Linked DNA regions of Homo sapiens. The protein of the gene in region 2 purifies or fractionates together with the protein of the main gene of each other region. This does not show direct contact. Each region holds a gene or a part of one and is shown on either strand. Other genes may lie near its edges.

What was found. Proteins that work in one complex are often made in the same cells at the same time.
Region 1: the proteins of GPM6A (region 2) and SEPTIN3 purify together in Homo sapiens (affinity purification with mass spectrometry; one large-scale study listed by BioGRID and IntAct). This does not show direct contact.

Annotation. Positions count from the first base shown.
Region 1 is NC_000022.11:41,972,338-41,975,994, reverse strand, and holds part of SEPTIN3 (neuronal-specific septin-3), read right to left. Parts: coding exon 2,999-3,657; intron 1-2,998. UniProt on the Homo sapiens protein: Filament-forming cytoskeletal GTPase. May play a role in cytokinesis.
Region 2 is NC_000004.12:175,634,231-175,637,887, forward strand, and holds part of GPM6A (neuronal membrane glycoprotein M6-a), read right to left. Parts: intron 828-3,657; coding exon 675-827; 3' UTR 1-674. UniProt on the Homo sapiens protein: Involved in neuronal differentiation, including differentiation and migration of neuronal stem cells. Plays a role in neuronal plasticity and is involved in neurite and filopodia outgrowth, filopodia motility and probably synapse formation.

The DNA of each region.
Region 1 (3,657 bases), on a different chromosome or scaffold from region 2:
ATTCCAGACAGGTGTGTAGAGCTAAATAAGAGGCTGGAGAAGTCCGCACGCAGCCTTGGAAGCTGGATTTTAATGGAAGGTAATGGTGAGTCACTGACGAATATTAAGCCGAAAGTGCTGCCATTCAATGTGGGAGTCGTTGCAGCAGTTGTGTGTGGACAGGGAACAAGCTGGTGGGTGGGAGGTGGCCTCACAGGGGCAGAAGGATGGAGAGGAGGGGACAGCCAGCCAGATAGTTGAGTACTGAGGAGGTAAACCAACAAGGTGGGAAGTAGACTGGATGAGATGGCAAGAGAGAGATGAGGAAGAAGAGGATACCCGGGTTTCTAGGCACCTAATAAAAGGTAGGCAATGCCTACAGCTGAGAGAGTGAGATCAGGGAGGCAGGAGTCAGTTCAAGAAGAAAAGGGCTACCTCTGGACATGCCCGGGAGACATCCGGGTAGATAAGCCTAGCAGGCTGCTGGCTGCCCACATCTGCACTTCAGGAGACAGGGCTGGGCTGCAGATGGAGGGAGAGCTGAGATCTCGTAGGGAGAAGTGAAGACCAGAATTTAGGTGAGGTGCCCAGACTGAGTGTGTGGGGTGGAGGGAAAGGGGTCTGACAATCTAACGACTCAATTAAGGCATTAGACTGGATGCCTTCTAGGCACCTTTCCAGACCCAAAAACTCTGAGCCCTTGAAATGTTGGGAATGAGGCTGCCCAAAGTAGAGATTTTAACAATCTGGATTCCAATCAGCTTACTGCCACCAGCCAGCTTTGGTGTGACTTTAGGCATGTCACAGGCTTTCTAAGACCAAATGAATGTCCAGCCCTTGTGTTGCCCTATTTTAGAGTTCTGTGTAGGACTTCCATATATACAAGGCTCCAACTTACCTTTCAGGATTAAAGGGCTGGGGGTGGGGGACCAAGAAAGAGACATTCAGGTAAGACAACTTTTAAGCAACAGATACCTTCCTAAAAGGCTGAGCGTAAATGGATTTGGAAAGTCTCGAGTGAGGTCATTATCTCACATCCAGAGGAGGCTGCAGAGACTACCTATTAGACAAATCACAACTTCCTAAAGCGCTAGTCAGTATTTTCACGTAGGAGGTAGGAGGCTTGCTTTTTTTTTTTTTTTTTTTTTTTTTTTTCTTTTTGAGACAGAGTCTCGCTCTGTCGCTCAGGCTGGAGTGCAGTGACGCAATCTCAGCTCACTGCAACCTCCGCCTCCCGGGTTCAAGCAATTCTCTGTCTCAGCCTACACACCTGGCTAATTTTTTGTATTTTTTAGTAGAGACGGGGTTTCATCATGTTGGCCAGGCTAGTTTTTTTTCTTTTTTTTTTTTTTTGAGACGGAGTCTCACTCTGTCACCCAGGCTGGATTGCAGTGGCGCAATCTCGGCTCACTGCAAGCTCTGCCTCCTGGGTTCACGCCATTCTCCTGCCTCAGCCTCCCAAGTAGCTGGGACTACAGGCACCCACCACCACACCCGGCTAATGTTTGTATTTTTAGTAGAGACGGGGTTTCACCTTGTTAGCCAGGATGGTCTTGATCTCCTGACCTCGTGATCCACCTGTCTCGGCCTCCCAAAGTTCTGGGATTATAGGTGTGAGCCACCACGCCTGGCCTGGCCAGGCTAGTCTTGAACAACTCACCTCGTGATCCACCCGCCTTAGCCTCCCAGAGTGCTGGGATTACAGGTGTGAGCCACTGCTTTTAAAGGTGGACACACCTATTGATCACCTGATTATTCCAGGTCTTCAGGAAACAAACAATCCCGGGAGATGCTGAAAGGAGGACTCACCATAATTGCTCCTCCACAAGTTACCCCTGTTAACCTTTCTTTTTCTTTTCTTTTTTTTTTTTTTTGAGACAGGGTCTTGCTCTGTCGCACAATCATGGTTCACTGCAGCCTCGACCTCCTGGGCTCAAGCAATTCTCCCACCTCAGCCTCCCCAGTAGCTGGGACCACAGATGCATGCCACCATGCCCTGCTAATTTTTTATTTTATTTTATCTTATTTTATTTTTTGAGACAGAGTCTTACTCTGTCACCAGGCTGGAGTGCAGTGGCACGATCTTGGCTCACTGCAGCCTCTGCCTCCCAGGTTCAAGTGCTTCTCGTGCCTCAGCCTCCCAAGTAGCTGGGACTACAGGCATGTGCCACCACACCTGGCTAACTTTTGTATTTTTAGTAGAGACGGGGTATCACCATGTTGGCCAGGCTAGTCTTGAACTCCTGACCGCAAGTGATCCACCCGCCTTGGCCTCCCAAAATGTTGGGATTACAGGTGTGCGCCACTGTGCCCAACCCTTATTTTTTATTTTTTTATTTTTTTGAGACGGAGTCTCGCTCTGTCGCCCAGGCTGGAGTGCAGTGGCATGATCTCGGCTCATTGCAAGCTCCACCTCCCGGGTTCACGCCATTCTCCTGCCTCAGCCTCCCAAGTAGCTGGAACTACAGGCACCCGCCACCACGTCCGGCTAATTTTTTTTTTTTTTTTTTTTGTACTTTTAGTAGAGACGGGGTTTCACCGTGTTAGCCAGGATGGTCTCGATCTCCTGACCTTGTGATCTGCCCGCCTTGGGCAGATCCCAAAGTGCTGGGATTACAGGCGTGAGCCACCGTGCCCAGCCCCTTATTTTTTATTTTTTGTAGAGACAGTCTCACCATTTTTCTCAGGCTGGTCTTGAACTCCTGCACTCAAGCAATCCTCCCATCTCAGCCTCCCAGAGTGCTGGGATTACAGGTATGAGCCACCACACCTGGCCAAAACCTTCTTTCTGATAGTTTCCCTCAGCCTGACCTCAGACTGGCAGGTTAGAACCCAGCTCAGGGTACAGTCCCTATGTCTGGCCCTACAACCCCCATTTCCTTTTCTCCCAACCCATTCAACCCTGACCTTAGAGTCCTTCCTCCGTTTCTCAACCCATGCAAGCATGATCCATCTCCAAGCTCACACACCTCCCCCTCCCGGCAGCCTAGTCCATCCCCAACCAAGTTTCTGCATTTACCTTTGTATTCTGTGGCCAGGTCCAGTGAGGCAGGCTCTGTGGCTCTGTCCATGGCAGCATTAGTGTTGTCCAGGGCTAGGTCTGTGGATCTGCTTGGCATTAGCAGGCATGTAGCAACGTCTGATATGGTTAGGTTATTAACACTGCCCAGTGTGGTCTTCCCAGTGGCTGGGTCTGGGGTTACTGGCACAACTGAACCCACAGCTGTGCCCATCCTGCTTGTGTCCAAAGCAAGAGAATTCTTAGCCGTGCCCAGCTTGGCTCTGTTCACTCTGGCCAAAGCCATGGCTGTTTCCAACCTACTGGTGCCCACTGTAGCTGTGATTGTGTCCGGCTTGACTGGGTCTGATGTTGCTGAATCCATGGCTATACCCTCTGTGGTCATATCTGGTTTGGCTGTGCTTCTTGTAGCCATGGCTTTGCCCAGCTTGTCTGGTTCTGAGGCTATCAAATCCATGACCATCCCTGGCTTGGTTGTCCCAACTGTAGTCAGATTCATGGCTGTGCCCGGCTTGATTGTGCCTGCTGTAGCCAAGTTCACGGTTTTGCCTGACTTGACTGTCCCTACCGAAGACAAGTCTCTGGCTGTGCCCAGCTTGATATCCAGGGCAGGGAACTCTGTGCCTGTGTCCAGTTGGGATGTGTTTGGTGTGGCTAAA
Region 2 (3,657 bases):
GAGTAATCTGAGGGAAATACCTTTTAAGAACATCAAGGAAAAGTACAATGTTAACAAAGATAAGAAGCACTTTTTTTTTTAAACCTACTCTTACAAATTTAGAAATTGCACCTTAGATTGATGAAAACATGAACCAGGGCCTACAGTAATATGGCCACTGATCTTCAGACAAAATTTCCATATTTCAAGAGTCATCAAGATGTAATCTCTATCTATTGTTCATAATGTACAATGGTCCCTTTGAAGGTTACCTGTAGTTAAACTAGTTACCGAAATCAAAACTAAAAAGTATAAAAAGCTATTTTCTTTTCAAAACATAAGAAATAATGCAAAAGGTGTTATGTATAACACATGGGAAGTGGTTAAAAATCAAACAAATCTTTGCATTTGACAATGTTAGTATCTTTGATTTTACAGAACTAGTAAATGAGTTTGAGAAATTTCAAAAAAAAGGCTGGATAGGAGCTTGTAGAAAAGATCTGATTTACATCAATTTAATAAATTGGGAAATTTAAGTGCTAAACAACAAAGAATTGTACTCAGGTGATTCATAAGTCACCTTACATATCATTGATGAGAAGCACTTTCGTTTTGTTTTTTAAAGGTTGGATGGTTGGATGGCCCTTAGTTAAACACCAATGCATTCAAATGGTAGAAAGAACAGGAAGATGCATTTATGTGTATGCATTGAGCCGCTCTTTGGAGCGAGTAGAGTGGATGTCATGAAGCTCTTGCTCTTCCTTCGACTTGATGTCTTCATACTTCTGCATCCGGCAGGCGTCTTTCACATAGGCCCAGTTGGCAGACAGAACCATAAGGTAGTGAACCTAATCAAAGAGAAAAATAATTTATATTGGAAGTTTGTTCAGTGTCTTCATTACACCTTGCTATCTCGAAAGAAGTCTTCGAATTATAGCTCTTTATAGGAAATGTTCACATATAAAATGGAAACAAAATTTCTTTGGTAACAGAAACAATATAAAATATATTTTCATTCCTCCAACTATATCCCACCATATTCTTGGCACCATTTCTTTCAGTATCTCTTTCTCCTTTTCAATTCTTGGAAGTAATCCAAAACTAATTCTTAGTCTTTATAGGATGTTTCCTGCCCAATGTGTCCTCATTTGCCCAAACCATAGATGATTCATTTCATGTTCATGTATCTATGTTTTATAATCCATAATCAGAAATATTTTCACATACCGTTGTGTCTAACTGACTTGAATTAATTGGAGGTTCTATTACCCCAATTAAAGAGAGATCATGGAAACCCCCAAATATACCTGTGGACTTGATTATCAGGTTAATTTTGCATATGATGAATTTTGTAGTTTCTTTTTGGTTATAAACTACAGGAGATAAAATATTGTGTTACATGGATTTTTTATATGTATATACATTCACAAAAACTGGAATAGTGCCATGTTCAAAAAGGAAGCTCCTGGTTTGTCTTGAGTAATGAAGTTGCTGGAGAAATAAAGCTCCTTTATTTGACTTGAGTTTACCCAGCAATGAGACCGCTTATTTGTTTTTCTTTTCTTTCTTCCCTCTTGGTCCACAGGGGAGATAAAGCAGCTTTCCACATGATGAATTTTGATGAATAGGGAAGAGAAACTAAGTTGACAGTTATTTACATTCTCTGAGTTTTAAAGGGTGGGCAATATTTTAATCCAACATTCAGAAAAATAGAACACTAAGATTTTGATAATTAGTAAACAGTACATTGAAAGAGGAGGCGGGCTGGTTCTAGAAAAGTACAGATGGATATAAAGAATGCAATGTCAATTCTAAATAATGAATATTGTGGTGTGTTCAGGTAGTCAACAAACAGCAAAAAACAAAATAATTTTGACACGGGATGTAGGGGAAAAGATGCATACCACTATAAATAACCTATTTTTAGAATTTTCTGTTTCCTCTGAAGTTTAGCATTTTGTTTAAGGAATATTGTAAGCCACCTGAAAGCAGGGGCTGTGAGTTATATTCTTGTACATTATGGCATTTACATAGTGAAAGCATAATCACTGTATATATATATATATATATATATATATATATATATATACATATATATATGGATTAAATAAGGCTTATACACATAATGAAGTTTATGCAGTATTTTGTTGCTGTAAAATATCAAGTGCTGTGGAGAGTGCTTAGTACATAGCAGATACACAAAATATTTGCCAAATAAATGAATGTATTTTTCAATCTTCAAAAACTTTTCATAATATCTGAGAAAATGTGGCCCCCAAATTATTATTAAATATGTATAATTGAGGCCAGGTGCGGTGGCTCACGCCTGTAATCCCAGCACTTTGGGAGGCCAAGGCGGGTTGATCACTTGAGGTCAGGAGTCCAAGACCAGTCTGGCCAACATAGTGAAACCCCATCTCTACTAAAAGTACAAAACGTAGCTGGGTGTGGTGCCACGTGCCTGTAATCCCAGCTACTCGGGAGGATGAGGCAGGAGAATGGATTGAACCTGGGAGGCAGAGGTTTCAGTGAGCTGAGATCATGATACTCTCCTCTAGCCTGGGCAACAGAGTAGACTCTGTCTCAAAAAAATACATATATATATTTACATAATATATATTATATATAAAATATATATTTTTATATTATATATATTTTACATACATGAGGAAGCACCTGTTTCTGAATTGGAGTGATCTTGAATTTCTTTTCAGTATTTCACTCATGCATATATATATATATATATGTATTTATATATATTTATATATGTAAATATATATAAGATAAAAAATATATTTATATAAAAATATATATAATACAAAAATATATAATATATTTATATATAAAATATTTGTAATATAAAAATATATAACATATAATATATCATATATAATATATTATATGTGATATATAATATATAATATATTATATATGATATATTATATGTCACATATAATATATCATATATGTGACATATATCATATATTATATGTGACATAATATATCATATATAATATAAAATATATATTATATATTATATATAATATAAAATATATATTATATATTATATATTATATAAAATATATATTATATATTATATATAATATAAAATATATATTATATATTATATATTATATAAAAATATATAATATATAACATATAATATATTATATAATATATAATAATATAATATAGTATATATATAAAAATGTATAATTATATATATAAAAATATATGGAGAGCCTTAGAAGGACTCCCAGTAACCTCATATATATATGACCTTTATATATATATAAAACCTTTATATTTTTATATATATAAAAATATACAATATATTATATATTATATAAAAATATATTATATATTATATAAAATATATTATATATTATGTAAAATATATAATATATAATATATATTATATATATATTATATATTATATAAAATATAAAATATATAATATATATAATATATATATAATATATAATATATTATATATTATATATATTTATATATAATATATTATATATTATATAAAAATATAATATATAATATAAAAATATATAATCTATATATAATATATAATATAAAAATATATAATCTATTTATATATTATATATAAAAATATATAATATATAATATAAAATATATAATCTATTTATATATAATATTTATATATTA